Regions from separate parts of the Homo sapiens genome. Here region 1 is linked to region 2. The links come from fine-mapping of genetic effects on gene expression. A gene starts in region 2. The other region holds a variant in brackets. All regions are shown on one strand. Distances are between the middles of the regions.

Region 1 (16,083 bases), 65 kb before region 2:
CAGGTGTGAGCCACCGCACCCAGCCAACAAAACTTTAAAAACTTATTAAATAGAAGTGATTCTGGCTAATTGGTGAGAACTGGCTGTGGGGGTAAGAGCAGGAGCTTGGAGGCCGACAGGGTCTTTAGAAAGGGGAAATAAGAGGATGGGCACGGTGGCTCACGCCTATAATCCCAGCACTTTGGGAGGGCGAGGCGGGCAGATCACAAGGTCAGGAGTTCAAGACCAGCCTGCCCAACATGGAGAAACCTCGTCTCTACTAAAAATACAAAAATTAGCTGGGTGTGGTGGCACGCACCTGTAGTCCCAGCCACTTGGGAGGCTGAGGCAGGAGAATCGCTTAAACACGGGAGGCGGAGGTTGCAGTGAGCTGAGACTGTGCCATTGCACTCCAGCCTGGGCGACAGAGTGGGAAAAAAAAAAAAAGAAAAAGAAAAAAAGAAAGGGGGAAATAAGCCCTAGGCAACCAAAAACACTCCTATTAACCTCACACCCAAAGATGGCCTTTCTTTTCCCCTAAACAGAATTGGCATCACACTTTACATATGGCTTCAAAGCCTTTTTTCCACTCAGCGTATTTCATTAACTTTCCCATTTTCCTGTGACATCATTTTTAGGTACCATATAATACTCCGTAGCACGGGCAGAACTGAATCGATGGTGGGGCACTGAGGCAATTTCCAGTTCTTCACTATCATGACATTGCTATGCCAAACATCCTTGTCAATGAATCTTTGCCATCTAGTTCCCCAGAAAACGATCTAGCTTTTTGAAGGGTGTGCACATTTTAAAGTCATTTGCTTGATTTTGCCAAACTGGCCTCCAGAGGGACTACTGACCGCATCTCATGAGCAGGGAAGCATATGCCTGTTTCCTCACATCCTGCCAACACTGGGCAGCACTGTCCTTTCGGATTGATTCTGGTCTGCCAGGCAAGGAACTCTACGTCATTGTCAGGGCTGGTTTCGTGAGCCGTTTTACGCAGGCTTTGTCCATTCCTCCATCTGACCAGGCAGCCTGCGGGAGCTGGCTTCATCTGACCTTCTGCTTTGAAGCAGCGCACACAGGATGTTTAATGAATAGCCGCAGGCAGTGAAGGAAGAGGATCCCCAGAGCCTGGGACATCAGCTTTCAGTAGAGTGCAAGCAGTTGCAGGAGCCCTGAACAGAAGTGGGGATGGCATGCTGCTCTTCCCAAAGCTGCCTGAGCTGCCCCAATGGCGCCACCTCCCAAGGTGGATGTTCCTCCAAGAACCTCCTCTTCCCCTTGGCTCTGTTTCAGGTGGTCTGCCTTAGTATTCACTTTCATTTTTCATGGTTAGGCCCAGCTCTTCCTTACATTTGCAGTGCATCCCATGAAGTCTTGAACGCTGAGGCAGGGGCTGCGGGTGTACTGCATGAGTGTCAGCAGGAGTTCTCGCTTTGTGCTTAACCAGTCAGTCGAGCAGACAAAGAGTGTGACAGCCCTTCGTACACCAATCTGCCCTTCTTCCTGGGGTCAGTCTGGGCACAGAGCCCAGTGGGGCAGCCACCAGTGAAGGCAGCCAGTAAGCTCTGTGGCCGCCGCGGGAAGCACAGTGGAGCAGCAGCTCACTGAAGACCCACAGTGAGTACAACGCGGCAGGAAAAAAGAATTAGGAGCCCTTTACAACCCAATCAGGGATGACGGCCAGAACACACCCTGAAGAGCAAAGAAGGTGCGGAAACGGCGGGTACGTGCACACGCAGACAGAGGCTGGCGGCCAGCCAGGTGGCTCTGGCTCAGGGGAAGAAGCGCATTTTCAACATCAAATTTGAAAGGAGTACTTTCAAAAAGGTACTCCTTGGTACCTTACGAATTTTGTTTTATTTGAATGCTTTTATCTATTTAGAAAAATAAAATCAATAACACTGATCCCGATAAGGCACCCTCCTTCCTAGTAAAGCTCTTGGCACAAAGCATCACCCTGCTGACGTGGCTGCCTGAAAGGCAGGCGCAAGATGCTCTGTTTCATTCATTTCCTGGCATTTAAAGGGCAATTGCCATGGGCCCTGGAGCTACCCACAGATTCCACAAAAGACACTGATTCATGAAATCACAGTTTAACATGGCTAGCAGATGAAGGAGTGAAGTCATAAACTTAGGATATGGAGAAGGTAGCTTCAAATCTGTCTTGAAAGGATGAATTATTAAGACCAAAAAGCTGAGGCATGGTGGCTCACACCCGTGATCCCAGCAGTTTGGGAGGCTGAAGTGGGAAGATCACTTCAGCCCAGGGATTTGAGATCGGCCTGCACAACATAGGGAGACCTTGTCTCTACTAAAAATTTAAAAATTAGATGGGTGTGTTGGCATCTGTCTGTAGTCCTAGCTACTAAGGAGGTTGAGGCAGGAGGATTACTTGATCCCAAGAGGTCGAGGCTGCAGTGAGCCATGATGGTACCACTGCACTCCAGCCTGGGTGACAGAGTGAGACCCTCTCTCAAAAAACAAAACAAAAGGCAGAAAAATTGACGTTGGGTCCCCACTGGCTGTTTGGGGATGGAAAAAATCAAGTTAGATCCTTCTCTCATACCAAGGACAAACAGATTTGAGTTGGGATTAAGAGCTGATGGACACAAAGTAAAGCCAGTCCTGAAAGAGAAGAAAGCACACTATCTTTATGGTCTTGGTGGGGAAACCCTTCGTCTTCCACATGGAAAGATTACATTACACAAAAATCCCAATCAATTCTCTGCATTATCCATAAAACTGTCCTGTAAATCTAAATCTATTCTAAAATAAAAAAAAAAAGGACTGAAAAAGTAAAAAAAAAAAGAAAAAAAATTCCAGTTCACTGAAAGGTACCATACATAAAGATTTAAAAAGGACAATCTATATAACCTTTGGAGAAAACATACTGTAACATAATAAGCAACATGAAGATCAACAGAGTTGATAAGAAGATAAATTAACTGATAGGAAAGTGGGTAAGAAATACCAAAAGGTAATTTACAGTAAGAGAAACACAAAAGGCCAATAAATACATGAAAAGATACTCAGTTTCACTGGCAATCAGGGAAATGAAAATTAGAACCACAGGATGATGTTTTCCACTCACCAGATTGACTAAAACTCAAAAACAAAACTGGGAATATGTAGTATTAATGAGAATGCAGAAAAATATGCACTTTCATACCTATTTGGTGGTGTTACTAATAGGTCCAGCTTTACATACTTTAGGGTTGCAATTTCACATCAAGGAATTTATCTCATAGAAATATCTGCACAGACACTAAACAGTCACTGGAAGAATGTCCAGTATTAGTAAGGGAGGACACCACCCCTCATGTTATCTTATGCCCAATTTCTGCCTCAAAGAAAAAGTAGGAGTTAAAGAAAAGAAAGAAATGAAATCAGTAGTCAGACAGCCCAGTGCTGCGTTCCAGGCCTGGTAGTTACAGACTGACCCCTGACTTAACCGGTTTATGTTATCTATAGATTCCAGACATTACACGGGACAGCACTGTGAAAAACCCTGTCCTGTTCTGTTCCATTCTGATTACCAGTGCATGCAGCCCCCAGTCACGTACCCACGGCTTGCTCAATCGATCACGACCCTCTCACGCGGGCTCTCTTAGAGTTGTAAGCCCTTAAAAGCGACAGGAATTGCTGACTCAAGCAGCTCGGTTTTTGGAGACGTGAGCCCGTCAATGCTCCCAGCTGAATAAAGCCCTTTCCTTCCACAACTTGGTGTCTGAGGGGTTCTGGACTGTGGTCGCCCTGCTACATTAGGAGACTACAGTGGCACACACACTAGGGAAATACTATGCAGCTGTGAAAAGAGTGAGGTTTATTGTGTGTATGTGTGAGAAAAACAACCACAAACACCATGCCCTGGATGGAGCAAATGAGAAACTGGCTGGACGAGGTGGATGAGGGGGCCTAGGGACCAGCCTAAGAATTTGCACCTGGCCCTGCAGGCAATGGGGAGCATGGTAAGGCAGAGACGTGATCATCACAGGAACCCCCAGGCATCTACAGAGCAGGCAGACTTTGGAGAAGAGGAAGAAATGCCTCTGCCACCCTCCAGGTGAGCCGGTGAGATGAAAGGAGGTGACTGATTTACGTGAGCCAGACATGGTCCTGGCTGTCACGGAGTTGGATTTAGGATACAGAAGGCAGAAAGGACAGGATTTAGGGACGAAAGGGGTAACAGGTGGGGATGGCAGAAACCTCTAGGACTGTAATTTCCAGCTGGCAAAGCAGAGTGGATGGGCGGTCTGGGGAGAACAGGGAATCAGGAGGCAGGGTCGGCCTCTCCATCCCATGAAGAAATACCAGGCTGCTGGGCTGCAGGCAGCCTCCCTCACTGAGGCCCCTGGAGTCCTCTGACAGAGCTTCCAGAAGTCCCATTCTTTCAGAGAGAGGATGAAACCTGCCCTCTCCCAACTGTGCACAGGCTGCCTCTCTGCCAGCCAGATTCCCAGGAAAGACAGAAAGAGATGGGACTGCCTGCTCAGCACTGAAGCGGAGCCCAGGACAACTGAAGGTAACTTAGTCAACAAGCAGAGCCTCTACCAGGCTGGGCCCTGGGGTGTGAGGCGATTCAAACTCCAAGCCGGCTCCCAGAGACCACCCTTGGAACAGTGCAGGGGAAGGGAAGGGGTCCCAGTGGAGGGTAACACAGAGGTGTCTGCCAAAGTTGAGGGGTAGGAAAGGAGTCATTCTAGGCAGGAGGAGCTGCAAAGGGACAGGCCCAGAAAGAGAAGGGAAGAGGGAGAGAGAAGAGCAAGGCGAGTGGATGGGAGTGGTCTGCTCCGGAAAGGGCAGGCAATCCTGTAAGACCGTAGCCAAAAGTGGGAGAAGGAAAGTGGAGAGAGAAGCCGGGCCAGATTCAGCCAATGGGCCTTATCTCCTCCTGGGCTGAGTTTGTTTACCCACTTCATTCATTCGAAAAGAATTTACAGGCCAGGCGTGGTGGCTCATGCCTGTAATCTCAGCACTTTGGGAGACCGAGGCAGGCACATCACGAGGTCAGGAGATTGAGACCATCCTGGCTAACACGGTGAAACCCTGTCTCCACTAAAAATATAAAAATTAGCTAAGTGTGGTGGCGGGCGCCTGTAGTCCCAGCTACTCGGGAGGCTGAGGCAGGAGTATGGCGTGAACCCAGAAGGTGGAGCTTGCAGCGAGCCGAGATCGCACCACTGCACTCCAGCCTGGGTGACAGAGCAAGACTCTGTCTCAAGAAGAAGAAAAAAAAAATTTACAGAGCGCCGAACAGCACGCTAGGCACTGTTCTAGATCTGGGACAATATGGCAGTGACCCTGACAAGGTAGCTGTTCTGGTAGAGGTAACTTCGAGGAAAGCCACAGCCATAAACAAGGAAACAAAGAGTAACATAATTTCTGGCATGGGTAAATGCTAGGCAGAAAAGAAAACAGAAGGATGAATCGAGAGTGTGCGAGTGGGAGTCGGGTGATCAGGGGACAGAATTCAGCTGAGGTCTGAATGACGAGGAGGAGCTGAAGACTGGGGAGGGAGCCCCAAAGAAAGGAGAGTGGGGGCCCTGCAGGCAGGAGCTAATTGCACAAGGCAATTGTTTTGCTAATAAGACCATGTTAAGAAAATTAAGCTTTTTTTCATTTGTAAAGAACTCATTAGTGAGTTATATTTTTAGTTCTCCCTCCTGGGGATTAGAAATTGGGCAGGGGAGGTTTGTTGGGGCTGATGGGGAGGACTCTGGATCCCTACAAGACCCCGAAGAGATGCGTGTGAGAGGGAGGAGGCAGCGGGGGAGCAGCACGCACCTGCTCCGGGAGGTCATGTCTGGGAAGAACTGCACGAGGGCCAGCAGGTTGTGGTGGTGGTCAGACACCCAGCTCAGGGTGCAGCACAGTTCCTGGAGCTGCAGGAGAACGGCACCCCATGGGCTACAGGAGGACACCGCCTTCCCCTTGCTCTCGCCACCCAGCCCGCACAGGGGAGTAAGTGGGCAGTCACGGAGATCAGGGACATTCCGATGACCTCCAGGCAGTGCCATCCCCACCCAGGGCACTCTAGGGGCCACCTTGGTCCCTAGTGATGAAGCTGTATGAGGACCAGGCTCTGGGCGTCTAGTACCTTCCCTGGCCACTCCCGGATGTTCTCCAGGAGCAAGAGGAGAAGCTGCTGGAGGTCAACTTTGGGCAGCAGGCGGAGCCCCACGTCCAGGCTGGTGCGGCACAGCAGCTCAATCAGTCCCATGAGGTTCTCATCAGTGTAGGCCCCCGGCTGGGCCTGGGCACACAGCGCCAGAAACTGGAGAGAGAAAAGAGGGCAGGGGTGGCCAGGGCATGGGGGAACGGGAGAGTACTTCGAGGACCAGTTCCCTGGGAGACACTTAGGCAGAAGGGATGGTACTGTGAGCCCCGCGGCCATGTTGGGTAGGAGCTCAGGAAACAGTGAGGCCCCTGCAGGGTCCTGGGTGGCAGGCACAGGTGTGGAGAGTGTGCTTGTCAGAGGCGTTTGAACCAGAGCAACTCCATCTTGAATAGGGGCTGGGTAAAACAAGGCTGAGACCTACTGGGCTGCATTCCCAGGAGGTTAGGTATTCTTACAGGATGAGATAGGAGGTTGGCACGATACAGCTCACAAAGACCCCGCTGATAAAACAGGTTGCAGTAAAGAGGCTGGCCAGATACCACCAAAACCAAGATGATGACCAGAGTGATCTCTGGTCGGCCTCACTGCTTATTATATGCTAATAACAGTGAATTAGCATGCTAAAAGACACTCCCACCAGTACCATAACAGTTTACACATGCCGTGGCAATGTCAGGAAGTTACCCTATATGGTCTAAAAAGGGTAAGAACCCTCAGTTCTGGGAATTGCCCACCCCTTTCCCAGAAAACTCATAATCCACCTCTTACTTAGCACATAATCAAGAAATAACCATAAAAATACTACACCAGCAGCCCTTGGGGCTGCTCTGCCTATGAAGTAGCCATTCTTTATTCTTTTACTTTTTTTTGAGACAGAGTCTTGCTCTGTCACCCAGGCTGGAGTGCAGTGGCGCCATCTTGGCTCACTGCGACCTCCGCCTCCCGGGTTCCAGCAATTCTCCTGCCTCAGCTTCCCAAGTAGCTGGGATTACAGGCACGCGCCACCGCGCCCGACTAATTATTGTATGTTTAGTAGAGACGGGGTTTCACCATGTTGGCCAGGCTGATCTTGAACTCCTAACTGCAGGTGATTCACCCACGTTGGCCTCCCAAAGTGCTAAGATTACAGGCATGAGCCACCATACCTGGCCTATTCGTTTACTTTCTTAATAAACTTGCTTTCATTTTACTCTATGGATTTGCTTCCAATTCTTTTTATTTTTGAGATGGAGTTTCTCTCTTGTTGCCCAGGCTGGAGTGCAATGGTGCAATCTCAGCTCACTGCAACCTCCACTTCCCAGTTTCAAGCAATTCTCCTGCCTCAGCCTCCACGCCTGGCTAATTTTTGTAGTTTGTGTAGAGACGGGGTTTTGCCATGTTAGCCAGGCTGGTCTCGAACTCCTGACCTCAGGTGATCCACCCGCCTCAGCCTCCCAAAGTGCTGGCATTACAGGCATGAGCCACTGCATCCAGCCTTTTTGTTTTTTTGAGATGGAGTCTCGCTCTGTCGCCCAGGCTGGAGTGCAGTGGTGCCATCTCGGCTCACTACAACCTCTGCCTCTCAGGGTCAGGCAATTCTCCTGTCTCAGCCTCCTGAGCAGATGGGACTACAGGTGTCCGCCACCATGCCCGGCTGATTTTTTTTTGTATTTTTAGTACAGATGGGGTTTCACCATGTTGGTCAGGCTGGTCTGGAACTCCTGACCTCAAATGATCCACCTGCCTCAGCCTCCCAAAGCGCTGGGATTACAGGCATGAGCCACCATGCCTGGCCCCAATTCTTTCTTGTACAAGAACTCTCTCTTGGGGCCTAGATCAGGACCCGTGTCCGATAACACAGTTTCTGTAGCATCCGGCCCACAGCCAGCACAGTGCCTGCCATGGTGCTGAGCTCGCCGGAGATTCTCCGTGATGCTCCTGGAATTTAGCTGCTGAATGGGTCTGAACTGTAAGCCGAGAGTGCCCTGCATGAGGCAGGCGGCTTGACTCACCTTGTAGATGTGGCCCAGGCTGATGTCCAAGGCAATCTCTTGGGGAGCGTCCTGCTCCTCATTCTCATTCAGGCCAGCCTCGCCTGGAAGCACCCTGTGGTAAGACAACAACAGTGACGATGGGAAACCCAGGAGGGGGCACAGGGGCAGGAGTGAGGCGCAAAGTGGGACACTGCTGCCCTGAGGCTGCTCATCCGCTGGACACAGCAAATTCTTCCACACAGATGATCTCATGAGTTTCTGAGGGCCAAGAATCCAGGGCAGCTCTGTTGGGTGGTCCTGGCTCGGGGGTCTCTCGGATGTTGCCCTCAAGATGTTGGGTGGGGCTGCGGTCACCTGAGCCTACAGGCTGGAGGGCCTGCCTCCCGGCTCACTCACCTGGTCACTGATCCACAGGCCCCAGGGCCTCTCCACAGAGTTTCTCCACATGGCCGCTGGTTCTCCAAAGCCAGTGGTGAAAGAGAGAGGGAGAGAGAATATGCCCAAGACAGAGCCACAACCTTCCACAACCTAACCTCGAAAGTGACATCCCATCTCTTCTACTGGTCACACAGGGCCGACCTGACTTGGTGTAGGAGGAGGCTACAGAACTATGTGAACTCTAAGAATGGGGGACACATGGAGGGGGGCTCCTTGGGGACTGGCTCCCACATGCTACCGTTCAGGTGAGGCCTCGAGCTTTAGTTTTCCAGGACTTGGAAACCAGAAAATCACACTTCCAATCCCC[C/A]CAAAGTCCGTGAGTTCTCCCTGGGTCCGTTCGACAAGGGTGAGCCTGCATACACTGCAAAGTGCACCACGTGGTAGCTGACACGGGCTGGCTCACAAGCCAGCAAGTATGGGGGAAATCAGAACAAAACATCCCTGAAAACCCCCTCCAAAGGTGTCACCCTGAGCTGATGTGCTGTCTGCTGATAAGACCTGCATGGCCAGTTTCCCCGAGTGACGGACCCAATCTGGCTGAGCACCAGATGATGTTAGAGACCAGGGCTGGGGAAAGAAAAATCCCCCCCTTTAAAGATCAAGCCACACGCAGGGTGGTGAGATGCTTACGGTGAGGGGGACCTCGGTGGGGCTTTGTGGATGGCAGTCTCATCACCCTTTCCACAAGCCTCCCTCCCAGGCACGCGCTCACAGGACGAGAGCCTGGGCGGGATCACCTTCATCGTATGGCCGAATGTACATTGTTGATTTCAAGTATGTTAAGTGAGCTTATGATGAGGGTCCCCTCTGCTGTCTCACCCACTTCTCCACTCTTAAGAAACGGCTTAAGGTTCCTGCTAACAGTGGTAAGTGAAGATATTGATGACAACCACACTGCTGATGACAGCAGGCTCCAGGCAGCCCCCTGGCACAGGGGAGGAAGAGCACTGTCCTACAGCTCCTGTGAAGTCTCTGCTCTTCTCTGCTTGGCACTGGCGCTGGGCTCAGAGGGGAAGGAGGAGAGATCTGTCTCCGAGGTACCAGGAAGTTGGTGCCGACAAACCAAACTTGGTGGGGGAGTGGAAACTGTGGCTGGGCTCAGTCCTTCTTCCAGATTTCAGCATTTATTAGGGCCCTAACTGAATGGGTAAGGCTGGCATTTGCACATCTGGGCGCAGGCTGGGCCTGCGCCAGTACGTGAGGGGAAGCTCTGGTTCGTACCAGCCTTGAGCGTGCAACACGCGCAGCCATAGGTGGGTGTGCTTTCAGGTTTCTCAGCACGGGGCACTCAGAGTCGACTACAAACATCTGCAGAAGAGAGACGCTGCCAAGGGGAGAAGGAACATTGAAGGTGTGAGGTGGTTACATGTGTTTTTTGAGCTGCAGAGAGGAGTGTGGCTGTGGGGAGAGCCCTGTCCTCCTTGGAAAGAAATGTCAGCCTTCCCAAGTGAATGCCTGGCTGGTCAGAGTTCCAGAACTTTGTGAGCCCATGGACTAATGGGCAACATAATGGGGGTCCTCTAATCCTCGCTTTTCAGAGGAATCACTTGACTAAACTGCTGGCATCTGTGGCTGCTGTTCTGAGCTGCAGCATCAGCTGATCCCCGAAACTCCACCACTGCTGCCAGCAAGGGGCCACAGCCCGGGAATTCAACGGCCTATCTATTATCCCTGCTCCCCTCCTGGGCTTAGCAGGTTAGAGTGAGCTGATGGTCCCACCATTGGACTCTTATGAGCAAAGCAGCTTCACTGGTCCCACGCCTGGCTCCAGGGTCTGTGGCCAGCACCTAGGAACTGGGTTTCTGTCTCGGAGACACCGTTCAATACTCATTAACCTTACAAGGGGCATGTCACTGGCCTCTACCCAGGTCTCCGCATCTTCTTCCCCCAAAAGTTGAAAAAATAATAAAGTTACCATCTGCATGGCATTCTGACATTCTCAGAGGGAAGATGGCAGGTACAGTGTATGAGCACCACTACCACCTTAACCAAGAGCTGCCTCTTTAATCAATTGCCCCCTCACTTGATAGGACGCCCTGTCAATGTGTTAATTGTCATGTATTTACCCCTTTGGTCTCTGCACCAGGCTGCTCCTTTGAAAACCAAGTGGCTGGCGGGGCATGGTGGCTCATGCCTGTAATTCCAGCACTTTGGGAGGCTGAGGTGAGTGGATCACCTGAGGTCAGAAGTTCAAGACCAGCCTGGCCAACATGGTGAAACCCCATCTCTACTAAAAATACAAAAATTAGCAAGCATTGTAGTACGCACCTGTAATCCCAGGTACTCAGGAGGCTGAGGCAGGAGAATCGCTTTAACCCGGAGGCGGAGGTTGCAGTGAGCCGAGATGGCATCACTGCACTCCAGCCTGGGCAACAAGAGTGAAACTCTGTCTCAAAAAAAAAAGAAAAGAAAACCAAGTGGCCAAGGCTTCTGGCACCAGGAAACAGCTCCAGACTTTTGGTCTTCAGCGGCCAGGCCTGCGCATCAGAGCAGGGCTCTAACTTCAGCTGGGCTTGGTAGCAGGAACAGCCTTGGAGGACCATGCACAGCTACCTAAAGACCTCCTTTGTGCTCCTGGGGGAGATGGGGGCACCTGGCAAGTCCCATTCTGTGTTGCAGCGTGGGCATGAGCCCCTCTGAGGATGCTGATGAGCTCCCCCACCACCCGCTTCCCATTCATATCCACGCTCCATCCTTTCCTTGAAATGTCCTCCTGTTTCCCCTCCCCAGTCTCATCATTGAGCAGAGGGCCACTGTTTCCAACAAGTTGGATGCCAGGAGATCTGCATGGCCCAGCTGCGGAAGGACTGCATCTTTCTGAAAGGAAATCTGGAAGCGCTAGATGGGAGATGGTGATGGCTTTTAAGGAAATCCGAGATTAGGAAGAAATGTGGGAAGACTTGTCTTTCTCAGAGCAACTAAAGAGACAGCCCAGTTACGGTGGGGACATGCACAGATGTCTGAGGCCCTCATTTTGAGCCCTGGCCATTGTGAGGCACTGTGGGTAGCCCAGGAGAAGCCCCAGAGGTATCCGTTCCCCTGGATGGAGGCATCCCTGGAAGTCAGCAGAAAAAAGATGCCTGGGCGGAGCCAGCTCGCACAAGACAGCCTCTGAGTTGGTGAGGAGCCAGGACGAGAAGGAACACAGGGAGAAGATAGCCTGCCGTGGGGTTTCTCTTGTGGCCCATGCATCCATGAAGGATGCCATACCCTTGGGGAGGAGATGCTGGAACCTCCTTGATGCTTCCCGAATACTCCGGAGGGGTCACCCTCCAATCCATGACACAACGCAGCAGCCCAGGAAACCTACCCAGGCATTTTCGCCATCCTCCTACCCCGAGGAAGACATGGGGAGGGGCTCCAGGCAGGAAAGCCTCCCCAGCCCTGAGGGGCTTGACCGGTGGTCCCCAGCCTGCTCCCAGAGCCAGGAGCAGGGAAATCAGCCCTGCGGCTGTCAGCCAGGTCCTCGAGGGTAGTTCTGAATCCTCTGATGGGAAATGGTGTCAACGCCAGGCCAAGGTCTGGGGCCCAAAAGAGGTAGATGTTAAAACGGTGTGTCTGGGACACGACATGAGGCCCTGGCAGCTCCCTGGGCCCGATCTAGGACAACACAGCCCTGCTTTCCTCCCACACAAGGCTTAACTGCGCCTGGGAAAGCTGAAGTCTGCGTGCCGGGGTTTGTGTCCCAAAGTACTTGAGATGATGTGTTTAAAGGGCCACAGTTCTCATCTCTCCTGCCCACTCTGCCTCTGGAGACAACGGATTTGTCACGCAGCATGAAGGGCAAGCCGCAGTCAAATCCTGGGAGAACCGGGAGGCAGTGGGGGAAGCAGCTCTTTGCAGAGCAGAGCGAGACCCAGTGGCTATGTCTCCAGTGCCGCCTCCCACTCCCAGGAGGACACAGGGACACTCATCACAGCAGTCACAAGTGGCTCTTCTGGACTCCACGGCCCCTGCCTGCCTCAGACGTTCATTTGTCTTTCTGAGTGTAATTCTCTCCCCCGCTCATCCAAGACGGTGTGCGATTGCAGCTCTGTGCCAGGAGGAGGCAAGTGGCTCATTACACCAGACATGGAGCTGCGAGCTCCGGGAGGGAAAGGGGCAGGAGCACGGCAGGCTGGCACATGTGTGGGGTATTTATAGCAGAGCTGAGTGTGGTTTGGCTTGGCAGACAATTGCTAAACACAGTCGTGGAACAGGTTCTTAGGAGAGCTCCCACTTTCCATGCAGAGGAACATCTGCCCGCCGAGGCGAGGGAAGGGGGGCCTGGCACCTCCTGGCGCTGACGGATTGTCAGCGGGAAGCATGGGGGGAAGTCCTATACAACAGCCCCTCCAGGCTTCAAAACACTCTGTTCCATCTCAAATCACCTTCTTCAAGGGTTCTCAAGAGAGTTTGGATGTGCTAAAATTTGTAGAACAAGATGACGATATATAACACTTTTACGACCTTAAGCTAAGTCGCCATCCGCCCACCAGAGCTATTTATGCATCACGTGGCACTCCTCCCCACAGGCAGGGACCAGGCATAGGCAAATGATCATGACTGTCCACGAGCAAGTCAGCCCGGGGCTCAACGGGGGCACTCATGACACAAAACTGAGGGTTGTGGGAACATAAAAGCATGCCCTGCTGTTCCTGAGTGGATATTAGGTAACGGGCCAAACAAGCGGCTTGAAGAGACTCAAGGGACTGGGACGTGTCTGCAAGGATACTAACCAGGCTGTGAAGTCTGGGTTTCACCAGAGAGTGGGGGCAGCGGGGGCTGAGTCAGGAAGTGCCAAAAACAGGCTCATCCATCCTGGGGGCTTCCCATCTCCCTGAGGCTGGGAGCAAGGAAATTCCTTCCTGGTGTGATACTCAGATCCTCAGGCGGGGGTGTGTGGTTGTTCTGTAATTCCCTACACATGGGATACAGCCTGAGTCCAGCAACTTCCAAACAAACAAGAGAACAGGTGGCTGGGCATGGGGTGGCTCATACCTGTAATCTCAGCACTTTGGGAGGCCAAAGCAGAAGGATCGCTTGAGCCTAAGAGTTCAAGACTAGCCTGGACAACGTAGGGAGACCCCCCCCCGCCACCTCTACAAAAAATTAAAAAATTCGCCAGGCGTGGTGGTGCGTACCTGTAGTCCCAGCTACTCAGGAGGCTGAGGTGGGAGGATCACTTGAGCCTGGGAGGTGGAGGCCGCAGTGAGCTATGATTATACCCCTGTATTCCAGTTCTGAGTGACAGAGAGAGACCCTGTCTCTTAAAAAATATGAAAGAAAAAGGCAGTGAGGAAGCAGAAGTACTCACCTGCCACCGTGCCAAAAGGGCCCCAGAGGGTACAGGGCAGGACTGTGGGCACCCAGGCTGTGGAATGCCTCCCTGACTTCTTGCAGTGAGGGGCACCACAGGTGCTTGTCTTCATCTGTCAGGCCAAAAGGGAGCAGAGAGTTAGAATGGGGAACGGAGGGCAGGGTGCACCACTCCCACTGAAGGGGCTGGCCGTGACCCCTGGCCCAAGATAACCAGTTTTTGCCTTCTCTGACACCACAGGTGTTATCTGGGGAAATGAAGCAACTGGTGGTTTCCAAGTACTTCTGGGGCTTTGTGAATTTCAATGTTTTCTTGAATATTCTCTTACCTGGTCTTCAAGGTATGGCTGCACTTGGGTCAACCACTCCCTGACCATCTGGCCATCCACATCAGGCAGTAGTCAGGGTGCTCGGCTGCCCACAGCCAAGTGACACGAAGAGTCCTGTGCCAGAGGCCCCGAGCTACAAGGCTCACTGGACACCAGGCTCACGTCCTTAGACTCTCTTGCTGCAAAGCACCGAGGCTGACACTCAGCCCACTGCAGCCTCTGCAGCACTCTTGCTGCTGCAACATTTGGGCATCCCTAGTCCACCATCCCTGCTGGGAGCACACCTCGCCTGCCTCCCACAGCCTGGGGCGTGTCTCCTAAGCAAGTGTGCGCTATGGGGACCAGTTTCCCTTGCCCAATTTAACCAAACATTCATGATAAAGTCTGACCACATCGGCCGGGCACAGTGGCCCACACCTGTAATCCTAGCACTTTTCAGAGACTGAGGCAGGCAGATTGCCTGAGCTCAAGAAGTTCGAGACTAGCCTGGGCAACACGGTGAAACCTCATCTCTACTAAAATACAAAAGAAAGTAGCCGAGCATGGCGGCATGAGCCTGTAGTCCCAGGATAATTGCTTGAACTTGGGAGGTGGAGGTTGTAATGAGCTGACATAGAGCCACTGCACTCCAGCACTCCAGCAGCCTGGGTGACAGAGCGAGACTCCGTCTCTCCAAAAAAAAAAAAAAAAAAAAAAAAAAAAAAAAAATCTGACCACGTCAGCAAACAGGGAGAACCTTACATACTCAGGTACTCAGGGCCTTTTTTTCTGTCAGACTACTTAAGGACATTTTTATAAGTGGGAGAGTAGAAAGATAAAAAAGAATGGGTCCAGACGTCTTCTCCAAGGATGGCTGCCCAAGACCTCCTGCCCCATGTGTTCTCTGCACCGTGAGCTCCCACACCTCATCCAGGGACAGAGCCTATGTTTCCACTCTGCTCTCATTCCTCAGCATTGTCCGACTTAGCAGTTGACTTGCTTCTCCTTCTGTCTCTCCCCGGTAGAACAGGAGTCCCACGAGGGCAGGGGCCACATCTGTGTTGGTCATCTCTACAGGCCCCATGCCTAAAAACGTGGCCGGTGCATGGAAGAATTAGAATGAATGAATGGAGAGAATCCAAAACAAATCTGACCAAGTACTACACAGCTAAGAGGGTGCTATGTTCTGAGTGTTTATGTATAGCCTCCAAAGCTCATATGTTGAAATTTAATCCCAAGTGTGATAGCATCAAGAGGTGGGGCCTTTGGGAGGAAAATTAGGTCATGAGAATGGAGCTCTCACAAATGGGATCAGTGCCCTGATAAAGGAAGAAGGCCTGAGGGAGCTGGTTGCCCCTTTTACCCTTCTGCCACATAAGGAATTGGCCAGAAGACCTCCTCTTTGGGGCAGAGAGCAGCTCTCACCAGACACCAAATTTGCTGGTACCTTGATCTTGGACTTCCCAGCCTCCAGAACTGTAAGCAATAAATTTCCCAGTTTATAAATTACCCAGACTAAGGTACTTTGTCATAGCATCTCAAATGGACCAAAACAGGGAGACTGAAAACAAGTCATAAGATGGGCTGGCAGTATCCAGAAGGCAGATGTTAAATTTGACAATGGGTGGGGCATCAGATTCAAGAACCTGGAAGCTGGGTTAGGGATACATCAGAAGCACATACGTGAGACTTCACCATTCTAGAGGGTGAGTGTCCCACCCTGAGGACCCACTTCAGCACACTCCACTGTGTTCAGGAACTAGCTAGGTGTGGAAGATAAAAAGGCAAGCTAGAGGAGACCTTGACCTCAAGGAGCTCATGGTCTAGGAGGAACAGAAGCCAGATCAAGAAATACAAGTGAATGTCTTTATGCAAAAATCAAAGCAGGTAAAAGGTACAGAGCCTTCTCAGAGGAGCAGGTGTTACTTGGAGGTGGTGAGCGGACAAGACAAGGAATATG
Region 2 (16,083 bases):
TAGCCTCTTGTGTAGCTACAACTACAGATTCATGCCATAATGCCCAGGCAATTTTTTATTTTTTGTAGAGGTGGAGGTCTTTCTATGTTGCCCAGGTTGGTCTCAAACTTCTGGGCTCAAGTGATCCTCCCACCCTGGCCTCCGAAAGTGCTGGAACTACAGGCATGAGCAACCGAGCCAGCCTCCTTGCATTTTTTAATTTGGGTTTCCCTGGTTCTAATGAGGTTGAGCACCTTTTCATATGGAGTCCTGACCTAGATATCTTTTTTTTTCAATTTTTACATTTTAAATTTTTGTGGGTACCTATAGACATCTTCTTTTGTAAAGTGCCAATTCAAGTCTATTGCCCATTTTAGATCTGTGAAGTATTCTTTACACAGTCTTGAAATGAGTCTTTGATCAGTTATATGCGCTGCAAATATTTTATTCCACTGAATGGCTTCTCTTTCATTCTATTTATTTTTTTTCTTTGAGACGGAGTCTTACTCTGTCACCCAGGTGGGAGTGCAGTGGTGCGATCTCAGCTCACTGCAACCTCCCGGGTCCAAGTGATTCTCCTGCCTCAGCCTCCCAAGTAGCTGGGATTACAGGCACCCGCCACCATGCCCAGTTAATTTTTGTATTTTTAGTAGAGATGGGGTTTCACCATGTTGTCTGGGCTAGTCTCGAACTCCTGGCCTCAAGGGATCCACCCACCTCAGCCTCCCAAAGTGCTAGGATTACAGGTGTGAGCCACCGCGCCCAACTCACTCTTTTTTGGTAATCTCAAATGGGTAATACGTTGACTTCGTAACGAGGTCTCAGGGTGGCACATCTCACACATGCACGTGAACACTCAATCATCATGCTTATGAACCACAAAGGATCATTTCACTCTATTAATGGTATATTTCGATAAAGAAAAGTCCTTAACTTTAATGTAGCCCAATTTATCAACATTTTCTTCTGCAGTTGGTGCTTTCTGTATCCTGTTTAAGAAACTGTCCTCTTTGGGAGGCCAAGGCAGGCAGATCACGAGGTGAGGAGATCGAGGTCACCCTGGCCAACACGTGAAACCCCATCTCTACTAAAAATCAGCCAGGCGTGGTGGTGGATGCCTGTAGTCCCAGCTACTCGGGAGGCTGAGGCAGGAGAATGGCGTGAACCTGGGAGGCGGAGCTTGCAGTGAGCCGAGATGGCGCCACTGCACTATAGCCTGGGTGACAGAGTGAGACTCCGTCTCAAAAAAAAAAAAAAAAAAAAAAGAAAGAAAGAAACTGTCCTCTAGGCTGGGCACAGGGGCTCACACCTGTAATCCCAGCACTTTGGGAGGCTGAGAAAGGCAGATCGCTTGAGTCCAAGAGTTTGAGACCAGCCCAGGCAACACAGTGAAACCCTGTCTCTACAAAAAAACGCAAAAATTAGCTGGGCATGGTGGTGTGCACCTGCAGTACCAGCTACTTGGGAGGCTGAGTGGGAGGATCATCTGAGTCCAGGAGGTCAAGGTTGCAGTGAGCTGTGATCGCACTACTGCACTCCAGCCTGGGTGACAAAGTAAGACCCTGTCTCAAAAAAAAAGAAAAAATCTTCGTTTATTCCAAAGTCATGAACATATTTTCATATGCCAGCTTTGAGAATTTTTATTATTTTGTATTTCACACTTGGATCCATAACCCACACAAGAAACATTCTTCACTTTTTAATTGATGTATAACTTACAGTACATAAATATATATATTCATATAGTATATGTACATACTTTATATATATTATTATTTTATTTTAGAGACAGGGTCTGGCTGTGTCACCCAGGCTGGAGTATAACGGTGCAATCTTGGCTCTGCAACTTCTGCCTCCCAGCGTCAAGTCATCCTCCCACCTCAGCTTCCCGAGTAGCTGGGACGACAGGCGTGCACCACCATGCCTGGTTAATTTTTGTATTTTTTGTAGAGATGGAGTTTCACCATATTACCCAGGCTGGTCTCGAACTCCTGAGCTCAAGCAATCCACCCGCCTCAGTCTCCCACAGTGCTGGGATTACAGGCATGAGCCACCGCACCTGGCCTAATTTATTTATTTATTTTTGTTAGAGACAGAGTCTGTCTCTGTCATGTAGACTGGAGTGCAATGTCATGATCACAGCTCTCTGCAACCTTGAACTCCTGGGCCCAAGCAACCCTCCTGCCTCAACCTCCTGAGTAGCTAGGAGTGCAGGTTCACACCACCATGCCCAGCTAATTTTTTTTTTTTTTTTTTTTTTTTGTAGAGACAGGGTTCTTGCTATGTTGCCCAGGATGGTCTTGAACTCCTGGGCTCAAGCAATCCTCCTGCCTTGGCTTCCCAAAGTGCTGGGATTACAGGCGTGAGCCACTGCACCCAGTCTAATTTATTTTATTTTAGAGATATAGTCTCTCTCTGTCACATAGACTGGAGTGTACTGTCATCATCATAGCTTCCTGCCACCTTCAGCTCTTGAGCCGAAGCAATCCGCCTGCCTCAGCCTCCCGAGTAGCTAGGACTGCAGGCACACACCACCATGCCTGGCTAATTTTAAAATATTTTTGTAGAGACAGGGTTCTTGCTACCTTGACCAGGTCAGCCTTGAACTCCTGGGATCAAACAATCCTCCTGCCTCAGCCTCCCAAAGTGCTGGGATTCCATGAGCCACCATGCCTGGCTCTAAATGCACAAATCTTAAGTGTTCAGCATGATTGATTTTTATGTACATATGTGTACATTTAGTATAAATGTGTGTCTGTGTGTGCATATATATACACATATACATACATATGGTAACCATTACCAGATCAACATATTGAATATTTCTTACATTCTAGAAGTACCTCCTCCAGTCAATAACCCCAAAGGTTATACTACTCTGCCTCTATCACCACCGATTATTTTGCCTGTTCTTGAACTTCACATACATAAAATCATATATATATATTTTTGAGACATAGTCTCGCTCTGCTGCCCAGACTCGGATGGTGTGATAACAGCTCACTGCAGCCTCAACCTCCTGGGATCAAACAATCCTCCTGCTTCAGCCTTCTGAGTAGCTAGGACTACAGGTATGTGCCACCATGCCCAGCTAATTTTTATATTTTTCTGTAGAAACAGTTTCATTGTGTTGCCCAGGCTGGTCTCAAACTCCTAGGCTCAGGTGATCTGGTCACCTCAGCTAACAAAGCGCTGGGATTACAGGCGTGAGCCACTGCATCCAGCCAAATCATCAATTTTGTGCACTTCTGCATATATTTTATTCAACATTATGCATGTGAAAATCATCCACGAACTACTGCTAAATGTATGTTGTTGCATGCTATATGCCTGTAGCAGTAGTTCATGCAGCAGTTCAGTAATCTTTATTACTATACAATATTTCATCATATGAATAACTACTACTTATTTATCCATTCCGCTGTTGATGAGCATTTGAGTTATTTCTTGTTTCAAGGTATTATGAATAAATCTGCTATGAATTTTTTTTTCCAAGACAGTTTCGCTTATTGCCCAGGCTGGAGTGTAATGGCACAATCTCGGTTCACTGCAACCTCCGCCTCCCGGGTTCAAGCGATTCTCCTGCCTCAGCCTCCTGAGAAGCTGAGATTACAGGTAGGTGCCACCACACCCAGCTAATTTTTAGTAGTGATGGGGTTTCACCATGTTGGCCAGGCTGGTCTCGATCTCCTGACCTTGTGATCTGCCGCTTCAGCCTCCCAAAGTGCTGGGATTACGGGTGTGAGCCACTGTGCCCTGCCAAAGTGGTACATAAAAACTTTCACTCCGCCACCAGGAAGACAATTTGCCCAACCTGTTCAATACAGTTCCCGCTCAACAAACCCCAATTTAGCATCTTCTATGTGTCAGGCAGTATGCTGAGCATTGGGACCTCAAGGATGAGGAAGATGCAGTCTCTGCCCTAGAGGAGCTTACAGCAGCAGGAAGTTTCTGTCATAGGACAGACCCAGGGCTCACCAAGACTCAAGCAGATGATGAAGCCTGGGGCTCACTGGCCCAATCAGCGTATTCAGACTGGCTGGCTGCTTATGAGGCTCTTGGGCCAGGGCTGCCTGCTCAGTGGGCAGCTGACTCTAGCTGCTGCAAAATGCCTTTCACTCAAAGGTGCTATCTACCAGTGATTATATGGCATTCCAATTTTACCTGGAAGGGAGATGCAGCTACCAGCTGTTTCTTCCCTCTCCCAACCACAAAGTAACACATTTTTCATTTGTCTATCTGTTGTTTCCAGGTTTTTGCTTTTGCCAATCCCCTCCCTCACATGCCTTGAAACAAGCACTTTCAAAGACAAAGACATAAACAACAAAAGGGTGCAGGCTGAGGTGGGTCATCTTCTCTGCCTGCGTCTCCAACTCTGGATCCTGCAGTTACTGGACTCAGGCCATGGCTGACTCCTTCATCACAGCTAAGATGCTGCTGGGTTTAAGGCACTGTGACTTTCTGTGCCACTAAGACCGACAAAAAGCTGCCAAGTGAACGATGACACAAAGAAAGACACAAACTGTGGGACCCAGCCCAACTTCAGAGCTGCTAAAATGTGAACAAAAATGCATCCCGGAATGGATGGAAACCGATCATTCTAGTTGGTGTGACCTGCTCCAGTGCCTACAGTACGTGTCCTGACAGCGTGGGAGGGGATATGAAGGCCCCCCAGTCAAACAGGAGACAGCGTTAGTCTCCAAACTTAACTTTGTTATCTCTTTCCCTCCTGGGGCCCAATACCCGCCAGCCAGGACCTGTTTCTCCTCCATCTCACATTCTTTCCAGGTTCAGGACTGAAGTCGTCTTGTTCAGCTCCTTGACTTGGCCATGCTCACTCTACAATGCAGCCCATGGATGGCGCCCCCTCTGCCCAGCACATCCCTCTGCCTGGGCTCTTGTCTCCCCGAATCCTGCAAACCCCAGCCCCAGCCTTTAGCGTTCAGCCGCCCTCCCCGCTTCCCTCATCCTCCCTCGCGTCCTCGCAGTGAGATTTCAACATGTCATCTCAGTTTTTTTGTTCTTTTACTTTCCTGACTACAAGAAAAATAAAATAATCTGTCTTAAAGTGTAGCATGAGGCCAAATAATTACGGAATCCCAAGTGCTTTGGGCCCTGATGTCAAAAGAGCCAAGATGAATTCAGAATATTACAATGGTGCTGTTTCTGCGAATACTGCTTTTTCAAGACGCCTTATTCCTAACATCATGTTTTATATCCATCCTTTTAAACAAATATTTAATAGCTTGGGAATGCTGGCGAGAGCAGCGGCTCCTGTCAGCAAGGACTGAGCTCACAATTTGAAAGATGAAAGGAGATGCGTTCTACCCACAAAGAAAACGGTCTCCAGCATCATAAACTCCACATCCATCAAACCGGGCAGGGGCTGGGAATAGAAAGCCTTTCTGGAAAGAAAACACCAGCTACCCTTTGCACCCTGGGGAACATTAAAAATCAAAACAAAACATGCCACATCAACCAAAACATAAACCAGTTCTCAAACCAATCTAAGGTTCCACCCCACCAAGGCCGGCCGCGCAGTGGCCTGTGGAGAGGAGGGCCCGGCTCACGTCGGAACCCGAACCACGCGGGGTCGCAGGAACCTGAAAAGCGCCAGAGTAGCCCGGCGGCCGCACCGGGGCTGACCTGCAAGGCCTGGACCAGCCAGGAGTCCCAGGGAAGTCGAGTGCTCTCTGAGCGCTAACCACGCGCCCCTGCGGTTCCTCGGCCTCAGTTTCCTTACCTGTAAAATGGAGCCGCTGATCCTGCCTCCTGAGTTGTGGAGCGAGGCCCGCACCTGGAAGCCTTGGCCACATAGGGCGGGAAGGGCAGGGCTCCGGGGTGAGGGAGGGTGGCGGGAATTCGCACGGCCTCAGAGGACGGGGCCAGCTAGCCGGGAAAGGAAGCAGGAGCAGGCTCCCCAGGCGGCGCAGTGGGAGGACCCCAAGAGTTGCGTCCCTAGATCCAGGGCCGCCAACGTGGAACCTAAAGATCCAGTTCTGGGGATTGAGTTCCGACTCCAAACCAAGCGGCCAGCTCACAGCCGCCGCCGCCGCCAGCTGGGGAGCTCGCCGGCCAAGTGCGCACCCTCTTCCTGTTAGCCCTCCACGTGCGCGCCCTCTTCCTGCTCGCCCTCCACGTGCGCATCCACGTGCGCGGGAATTGGCTGGCGGAAGCTCCTGCCCCCAGGCAGTCCTGGGTCACGCGCACTTGTAGTAGCTTGCATTTACCAAGACAGTGAGACAGTGGCCTGGCGCGGTGTCTCATGCCTATAATCCCAGCACTTTGGGAGGCTGAGACGGGACGATTGCTTGAGCCCAGGAGTGAGAGACCTGCCTGGGCGACATGGCGAAACCCCGTCTCTACTAAAAATACAAAAATTAGCCTGGCGTGGGCAGGGCGCGGTGGCTCACGCCTGTAATCCCAGCACTTTGGGAGGCCGAGGCGGGCGAATTGCCTGAGGTCAGGAGTTCCAGACCAGTCTGGCCAACATGGTGAAGCCCTGTCTCTACTAAAAATTAAAAAACATTAACCGGGCTTGGTGGCTGGCGTGCGCCTGTAATCCCAGTTGCGCGGGAGGCTGAGGCAGGGGAATTGCTTGAACCAGGGAGGTGGAGGTTGCAATGAGCCGAGATCGCGCCACCGCACTCCAGCCTGGGCAGCAGAGCAAGACGCCGTCTCAAAAAAAAAAAAAAAAAAAAAAAAAAAAAAAAAAAAAAAAAAAAAAAAAAGCCGGGCATAGTGGTGCAGTGCCTGTAGCCCCAACTACTTCAGAGGCTGAGGTGAGAGGATCACTTGAGCCTGGGAGGCGTAGGCAGAGGTTGCAGTGAGCCGAGATCGTGGCACTGTACTCCAGCCTGGCGAAAGAGCAAGCCCCCATCTCTAACACACACACACACACACACACACGTGTGAGATAGCTGTGTCTGTTTGGCAGTGATGAGCTTCCCTTTATGGGAGATTTACATAATTATTCATAAAGGAGCGGGAATGGGCATTACTGTTAAGCATGTTACGGGGTCTCCCAGATGTGCATGTGCGTGCTAGTACACCACATCACATGTCTCATTAGCATTTTAATTCCTCACCCAGGGGTGTGTTTTTTAGCATTAAAATGAGCATAGGTCATTCCAAGGACACTCTAATCATGGGTTTCTGCACTTGTGTGAATTTGGGGATTTTCCCTTCTGCTGTTCATCCTCTTCGCTGCAGGATGTTCTAACTAGGAGCCTGATGCAGTTTATGCACCAGTGGGCGGTTTGTTCTCTACATCAATCTGGCAAGTTCATTCCCCTTTAAAGGAGGCTATGACCACTGTATCTAACCGACCTCATTTTCCCCCTCAGAGACTTTGGGTCCATGTTCTTATGAAATGTGGAGGGCTGGGTCATTTTTTCTGGAGCTGCTTCGTGCTGAGACAGGACCAGGGCCCGAAAGTCTCTTCTTGCCTGATTTAAAGTGATAGGGGTCATATCCTCCACTGGGATAAGTTGAAATCCTTGCATAACTATCAATCTAGGAATTGTTGTAACCTAGAAGACACAGACTTTAAAGGAGCTTAAACAAGCAAGGACCAAAGGTCAGTAGTAATAAGATGGCTATTGTAGGTCCCATGAAAGGTAGCAGAATGAAGCATCACATCATTATTCAGCAAGCAGAAGAACAAAAAGAGCTCCTACAAATAGGAGACCTGAGATGGGACTACCTTATGTTAAAGTAATATTAATCTCTTTATTTGGGGTGTTGGCATCTTTTCTTGAAAATGAATGTTAGGTCTTCTATAGGCTTACAAAAGGATTTTTAATTTTTAGTTGTTGATGTAGAGTCCTGTGGAAACGTAAGGGAAACAGTTTTTATCCTAGAGAGATGCACCCAGCTGGCAATGTCCTGGATTCTCTGGACTATGGTGTGTTATGGTGGTCAGCTGGGCTTTTGAGAGTGCTCCTATGAGAAGGGGTTCAGTTGGTTTCATTGGTTTTAAAGAAGCCCCCAACGAGGGTAGCAACAAGGGAGTTAGGCATTCACGTCCTTGAGTCTGCAAATTAAAGGTTGGGTGGCTGGGCACGGTGGCTCACGCCTGTAATCCCAGCACTTTGGGAGGCCGAGGCAGGCGGATCACGAGGTCAGGAGATCAAGACCATCCTGGCCAACATGATGAAACCCCGTCTCTACTAAAAATACAAAAAATTAGCCGGGCGTGGTGGTGGGCGCCTGTAGTCCCAGCTACTCAGGAGGCTGAGGCAGGAGAATGGCATGAACCCAGGAGGCGGAGCTTGCAGTGAGCCGAGATGGTGCCACTGCACTCCAGCCTGGGCAACAGAGTGAGATTCCATCTCAAAAAAAAAAAAAAAAAAAGGTAAAAAGGTTGGGTAAAGTATCTGGTCCGGGTTTTTCATCAATTCCCGTGGCAGTGCAGTGTTTGGCCTATTTGGCCTACTAGGGTCGACGGCAGAATGTAAGGACTGACAGGCTGGTCCCTGTATGTAATAGAAAATTAGCTACACCTGCCACGTGCAGGGTCACTGGATTCCTCTGTGGTAATGGGGACTGAATGACAGCCAGTGTTAGCCTTGGGTCTCCTCAGTCTTTAGTCAGGGCCATCAAGGAATTGGAAGCCCCTGTCTCCCTACGGAGTTGGGGGCAGTCCTGCTTCCGGTGACTGGCATCTCTGCATTGTGGATATGGTCTAGGTGGAGCGGACTTTTGGGCATTTTGTCCCTTGGTCTGGCAGTTTTGGGGCCAGTGTCCTGGTTTTAAGTGTAGCAGGTGTCCCCAGATTGGGGCTTGGTCTGGACTGGCTTGTTCTCTCTGATAGCAAGGGCCAATAATCGGAGGCCTGGTTTATGTCTCTTGCCTCTTCCCTCTTTCACTTTTTAGCCTCTTCTACTCTGTCTCATTATAGAAGACTTCAAAGGCTACATTAATTAGCTCATTCATTGGTGCCTGGGGACTTACAGCCAGTTTTTGTAACTTTCTCTTAATATCTGGAGCAGATTGACTAATAAAATGAGTCCCCAGAAGAATTTGACCTGCCTCAGAGACAGCATCTACATTGGTATATTTTTCTAATGCCTTTACAAGGCACCCCTGTGAAGACTCAAAAGGACCATATAATATTTCAAAGGTGCTGGGTTGCAGATTGGTCTTGGGAGCCGCTCTTACTTGGAGGAACGCTAGAGGCAATCACTTTAATAAGGACTCAGAAGTCTCTTGCCAGAGCTTCGCCAGAGTTTTCTTTACAAGTAGCTTTTTCTAGCTTTCCTGAGGATGGAGGTCTCCAGGAAGCATGTAAATGATCACTTACTCCTAGAGTGGTAGCACTTGCTGGGTTATTTTGGAAACAAAGGAGGGGCCATTGTCGCTTTGGAGTGACATAGGTAGCCCAAATCGGGGAATGATTTCTTTTAAGAGGCACTTGTGCCTTTTCTGTTTTGGTGGAGTAGGCTTCAATCTATCCCATGAAAGTATCTGTAGAGATCAGTAAGTGCTTAAATCTTTATACTGGTGGAACTTAGGGAAAGTCTAACTGTCTGTCTTCCCCTGGGTACCTTCCTCTCCTCTGTACTGGCATCAGTAATGGAAGTGGCCTTATTTTCCTTTCTGGGTTATTGATAGAGTAAAGTGGTCTCGCTGTAGTGTGTGCTTTTACAGTAGTAGCTAAGCCTGTTCCCTTAAGGGTTCATGTGACCAAAGCGTTAGAGAGCCCCTTCCTAGGTGTCTGTAACCCCCTTTGATTAATTTGCATTGATGACCTTGAGGTATTAAAATTTTTGAATTTTGGGGCCGGGCACGGTGGCTCACGCCTGTAATCCCAGCACTTTGGGAGGCTGAGGTGGGCAGATCACGAGGTCACGAGATCGAGACCATCCTGGCTAACACGGTGAAACCCTGTCTCTACTAAAAATACAAAAAAATTAGCCAGGCGTGGTGGCGGGCGCCTGTAGTCCCAGCTACTTGGGAGTCTGAGGCAGGAGAATGGCGTGAACCCGGGAGGCGGAGCTTAAAGTGAGCCGAGATCGTGCCACTGCATTCCAGCTTGGGCGACAGAGCAAGACTCCATCTCAAAAAAAAAAATTTGAATTTTGGGTCCACCATCATTAGGGTCTTGGTATTATCCCTGTTCAGTTGCCCACTCCCTTTCAGTTTGTGTGTGTGCAGGCACTAGCTCAGGAGCCATAGTTTCTGGGATGGGAGCCCCTGCTACAAATGGAAGGGACACAGCCTGTTGAGCAGTTGCATTTGCTAAATTATCATTTTTTTTTTTTATTGTTGTAGAGTTCCCTCTTTGGTGTCCCCTGCAGTGCATAACATCAACTGGTAACTGCTTAGTCTTTGGGCTAAGTCTGACATTGAGAAAAGAATGTGAACTCGAATGGTCCCTGCCTCTTTGTTAGTTAATTCCCTACGAGGGAGTAGCCTGTTTTCTGGTTTGAGTGGGTGTCCTAGCGCGACTGGGCCCTTCTGGGAGTGCTGGGTGAATGGGTTGATATGGAGGAGGTGCAGTAGAAGACTGCAAGTCTGGTGAGGAAGGACCACTAGAAGGAGTAGAGGCTCTAGAGGTTTGAGGAATGATCCTTGGACTAGATTTGAAGAAGGAGAGCTGTTAGTGGGAGGCATACTTCCTAATACAGTGTCATGAATTACATCAGATTCCCTTGAACCCTTCTGAACAACATGGGCATAACACATTTGTCACTGGTCTCTAAGACACTTGTGGGTTTTAATTTTTTTTTTTAATAGAGATAAGGCCTCACTATGTTGCCCAGGCTGGTCTCCTGAGCTCAAGACAGCCTCCCACCTTGGCCTCCCAAAGTCCCAAAGTGATTACAGGCATGAGCCACTGCGTCTGGCAGAGACTTGTCTTAATGTAAAACCGTTTGGTTAGAGGGAGGAATAATGTCAGGTTGCCCTGGGCCCTTGGGGAATTTCTGACCTTCCTTTCCTTTTATAAAAAGGTTTAATTATAAAATGGTATTGTTGGGCCAGGCACGGTGGCTCACACCGGTAATCCCAGCACTTTGGGAGGCCGAGGTGGGCGGATCACGAGGTCAGGAGATCGAGATCATCCTGGCTAACACAGTGAAACCCCGTCTCTACTAAAAATACAAAAAATGAGCCGGGTGTGGTGGTGGGCACCTGTAGTCCCGCTACTTGGGAGGCTGAGGCAGGAGAATGGCGTGAACACGGGAAGTGGAGCTTGCAGTGAGCGGAGATCGCGCCACTGCACTCTAGCCTGGGCGACAGAGCGAGACTCCGTCTCAAATAAATAAATAAATAAATAAAATGGTATTGTTTGGGGCCATGCTGTATTACAAAAGAAGAGAAGTCTCTTTTTTTTCTAGTCCATTCAGTTTAAAATAAGACCAATTTTGGAGAATGCATCTGAGGGGGCAGTGAGCAGAGGGTTGGTTACTGTATTGTTCCGCTCTCATACCGCTATAAAAACTACCTGAGACTGGGTAATTTATAAAGAAAAGAGGTTTAATTGACTCACAGTTCTACAGGCTGTACAGGAGGCATGGCTGGGGAGGCCTCAAGAACTTACAGTCATGGCAGAAGGTGAAGGGGAAGCAAGTACATTTTCACATGGTGATAGGAGAGAGAGAAAGAGAGTGAAGGGGGAAGTGCCACACACTTTTAAACCATCAGATCTCGTGAAAACTCACTATCATAAGAATAGCAAGGAGGAAATAGCCCCCATGATCCAATCACCTCCCACCAGGTCCCTCCCTGAACATTGGGAATTGCAATTCAACATGAGATTTGGGTGGGGACACAGACCCAAACCATATCAGTTACCCATCTTGATTAGTAGCCTAATGTCAAAAAAAAAAAAAAATGAAGAAGGCTCTAAGCCTGAAGAGACAAAATTTAGCTTGGGCGTCCCCTTACTTTCGCTTGGGCTTCCCAGGCCCTGCTGTCCCTGGTGTCAAGCGTACCTTGATGGCCAGCTGACAGTCTTCCCAAAAGTGGTTTTACCAGTTTTCCCACAAGGAGAGGTACCACTTCTAGTCCCTGTCTTTACAGTTATTGGTGAGTGACCAATGTGGAATGAGGCAGATAAACTTCTTTTCCTCATTTAGCTGAGGGAGTCTTTTCCTGGGCTTAGACTCTTCTGGCCTTTTCTGTACATCTGATGTTCTCTTATTAAAGGCCCAGGACTTGGGTGGGCAGCCCTAGAGCTGACATTTCTATGGTACCATGATCTCTCTACATCCCATTTTCCTCTCTTAAAGAGCAACTGTATGAAGGGAAAATGAAGCAGGGGAAAAAAGAGCAACTTAAGGATCTGGAAAACAGCCAAGCCTACTAGGGTTGGGGGAGCATCAATTGATTGAAAGGCCCGTTTTCGGCGAGGTGCGTGGCTCATCCCTGTAATCCCAACACTTTGGGAGGCCAAGTTGGGCAGATCACCTGAGGTCAGGAGTTTGAAACCAGCCTGACCAACATGGAGAAATCCCGTCTCTACTAAAAATACAAAATTAGCCAGTCATGGTGGCGCATGCCTGTGATCCCAGCTACTTGGGAGGCTGAGGTAGGAGAATCGCTTGAACCAAGGAGGCGGAGGTTGCAGTGAATCGAGATTGCACCATTGCACTCCAGCCTGGGCAACAAGAGTGAAATTCTGTCTCAAAAAAAAAAAAAAAAAAGAAAGAAAGAAAGAAAAGAAAGGCCCATTTTCTATTTGCCTGATCTTTGCTTTAAAACATTGACAAAGTTGTCTGATTAGGGATACAAAAAGGCTGAGATCCCCAGTTTTGAGATCTTTTACTTGGTCACGATAAGAATGTTCATACAATCTAATGTGTTCCTGACAGACAAGACATTTGACAGGATTCACCCAAGAAACCAATTGGGAGATTAAGGAATAAAATTCATCGCCCCACCCGTAAGGGATTAAAGAACAAAAGTAATAGTTATCATCAGCAGCAGAAGACGGATTGAAAGGTCACCTGGCATTATGCAGCCTGGGCTTTTTCCCCATCACTTTCATATGTGCCAGCTGTCTGGCTGGACTAAGACAGCCACAAGCTACTTGGGGAGAGTCTAACTTTCCCATCTCCATGAGTCACCCACAGGTGAACTGGAAACCAGTTGGATGGAGCATGACAGTCTTAGCTGAAGGGAATTCTCAGGTGGCCAAAAGGAGGATATAAAGAGAGGAGGAAGATTAGACCTGTAGCCATGAGGTGGTGAGATCATTCTTACCTCTTGACTCAGTTTACCCAGGTCCTGCTGCAGTTGCCAACTTACAGTGTCATTGGGCCGATTCAGGTTCTTGACTGCTGCACAAAAGAATTTGAGAGCAAGTACAAAGCAAAAGTAGGTAAAGAAGTTTATTGCAAAGCGAAGGTATACTGGGACGGCTGGGCCAGAGCGGGCTGCTTAGAAGTGAGACAGAGTTGTCTGGCAGTGAGGTGCTTCCCTATATGGGAAATTTACATGATTATTCATAAAAGAGTGCGAATGGGCATTGCTGTTAAGCATGTTGTGGGGTACCCTCGGTGTGCATGTGCTATTGCTGTACATGCTAGTACACACGTCTCATTAGCATTTTAATTCTCCACCCGGGGTGTGTTTTTTATTTATTTTTTTGAGACAGAGTCTCGCTCTGTCACCAGGCCGGAGTGCAGTGGCACGATCTCAGCTCACTGCAATCTCTGCCTCCTGGATTCAATCAATTCTCCTGCCTCAGCCTCCCGAGTAGCTGGGACTACAGGCGCCTGCCACCACGCCTGGCTAATTTTTGTATTTTTAGTAGAGACGGGATTTCACCATGTTGGCTAGGATGGTCTCAATCTCTTGACCTCGTGATCCGTCCACCTTGGCCTCCCAAAGTGCTGGGATTACAGGTGTGAGCCACCGCGTCTGGCCTGTGTGTTTTTTAGCATTAAAATGAGCGTAGGTCAGCCCAAGGACACTAATCATGGGTTTCTGTGCTTGCTTGAATTTGGGGATTTCCCTTCTGCTCTCCATCCTCTTTGCTGCAGGATATTCTAACCAGGAGCCTGATGAAGTTTACGCAGTTGCCAATCGGTCAAGTTCGTTCCCCTTTAAGGGAGGCCACGACCACCCTATCTAACCGACCTCAGTCCGACAGTCAGATCTTTCCATGGTGGAGACACTGCAGATGTGTGTATTGAGAACCACTCTGTGTATTGGGAACAACTCTGCTCAGAACCACCAGCCATGAAAATCATTTTCCACGTTTTGCTTTGAGAAGAGATCTGTCCTGGGCATGTTTCTCTCTCTCTCTCTCTCTCTCTCTCTCTCTCTCTGTCTCTTTCTCTCTGTGTGTGTGTGTGTGTGTTTGTGTGTATGTGTGTGCACATGCATATTCCCATTAGGAGATTTCAGCCCTCAGATTCACACTCAACAAATACTGGTTGAGCCCCGGCCCTGCACCTGGCATTGAGTTAGGCTGCTTATACAAATTATTTTGTCTTATTCTAAACCAAGCCTGCTATCACCAAAAACTCACACCCTAGACTTCTGGGGAACTGATTTTTAATTAGGCATCACAAATAACTAATTAATGATCCTCCTGTGTGGTTCTACAGGAAAGAGGGCAGTAGAGCTGAACTGAGCTTTGCCGGAGTGTGGCTGGGATGGCTGTCCCCTGAGGAGCCCCTCTTCTGAGGCCAGGATATGATGGGTGGGAAGGCAGCCACCTTGGGGGTTGGCAGTCTCTTCCCAGCAAGGGGAAGGCCCCTGGAAGGAGCAGAAAATAATTACTACTTTGCCTTTGCTTCTTTTGATAAATTCCTGCGGGAGTTTGGGCCCATTCATTCATCTGACTTCCAGTTGTCTGTCAAAAGGACTACTGACACCAGGACATGGTGGCATACGCCTGTAATCCCAGCACTTTGGAAGGCTGAGGCAGGAGGAGGGCTTAAGTCCAGGAGACCAGCCTGGGCAACATAGTGAGACCCCATCTCTACAAAAAATTAAAAAACTAACCAGGTGTGGTGGCATGTGCCTCTGGTCCCAGCTACTCGGGAGGCTGAGGTGGGAAGATCACTTGAGCCCAGAAGGGCGAGGCTGCAGTGAGCTGTGATTTCACCACTGCACACCAGCCTGGGCAACAGAGCTAGACCCTGTCTCAAAAAAACAAAACAAAACAAAAGGCTGTTGAAGATGTAGAAAGAATCCCCTCCAAACTCCTTACTGTTCTTTGCAGAACTACTGCGATTTAAAATGTTTTAAATCTATATAGGTAGGTCCATTTTAATATGTACCATTTGAAAGTTTAATATAAAGAGACAGAGCCAGCTCCAGGCAAAATTGGATAATAACTTACTCAAGAATAACCCTCGTTCAGTGTGCAAATTGCCTCCAGAAACCTGACCTCATTTGATCTTCACAGCAGGCTGGAGGGCACTATTACTAGATTCATTTTTCAAATGAAGAAACTGAGGCTTGGCGGCCCCTCTGCCAGGTTCAGGGCCAGGCACTGGGTTATGAGAGCCGGGATTCCAGCCTGGGGCTCTTGTTGCTACTGGCCTGTCTCTCCCCTCATCTCTCGGGGTTTTGCCCTCACTTTAGGGATCCACTGCCCTAACTTCTTTGTGTTCAGGCTCTGTGTCCTTGAGACCCTCCACATTCCTCCCAGAAGACCCTGGAAGGAACAGAAAAGGAGCTTTGGCAAACAGGGCTGCTTTAGGTAGTACAGCAACCCCAGCACAGAGGACCCTTGCAGGGCCTGGCCACATCCAGCCAAGGACCTCCCCGATCTCCTCCTCTTCCTCCTCCTCTCCCTCCATCCCTTCCCTTCTCCTCCTTCTCTTCCTCCTCTTAGGATCTCTCTTCCCTCTGCCCTGCTCTGCGGAACCACGTGCTATATGTGCCCACTCCTGGTGAGCTGATCTCTCAGCCCAGTTAAGAAGGCATCTTTCAAACGGTCCCTTGGATAGTGATCCTAGTGATGGGACCGACTTGGGGGAGAGGGGCTGCAAGTTGGCCTTGCTCCTTCCCAAGTCATCCCATGTGAATGGCTGCTTATTCTTCCAGAGGCCAGCCTGGAGTGACACTTTCAATTTTTTTTTTCACTTATAGCCCCACTTTGTGTAATCATCATGTTTTGATCCTCTACTATGTGCTATA

Evidence for each region.
Region 1: its variant is fine-mapped to the expression of FAM178B in whole blood (TOPMed, PIP 0.99).

Annotation. Positions count from the first base shown.
Region 1 is chr2:96,915,393-96,931,475 of GRCh38, forward strand. FAM178B (family with sequence similarity 178 member B) reads right to left here. Exons shown (of 17, transcript NM_001122646.3): 9 at 13,814-13,928; 10 at 8,098-8,191; 11 at 6,086-6,262; 12 at 5,773-5,870. It overlaps LOC101927053 (a long non-coding RNA gene), which reads left to right and starts at 3,714. Exons shown (of 3, transcript NR_110209.1): 1 at 3,714-4,051; 2 at 4,383-4,510; 3 at 8,652-10,445. RefSeq lists an enhancer at 11,600-12,313. The variant C/A (reference allele first, on the strand shown) is at 8,825.
Region 2 is chr2:96,980,519-96,996,601 of GRCh38, forward strand. FAM178B (family with sequence similarity 178 member B) reads right to left here and starts at 6,062. Exons shown (of 17, transcript NM_001122646.3): 1 at 5,723-6,062. The coding sequence starts at 5,795. LOC124906158 (small nucleolar RNA U13) reads right to left here and starts at 866; the gene lies at 764-866. RefSeq lists enhancers at 5,099-5,619, 5,620-6,140.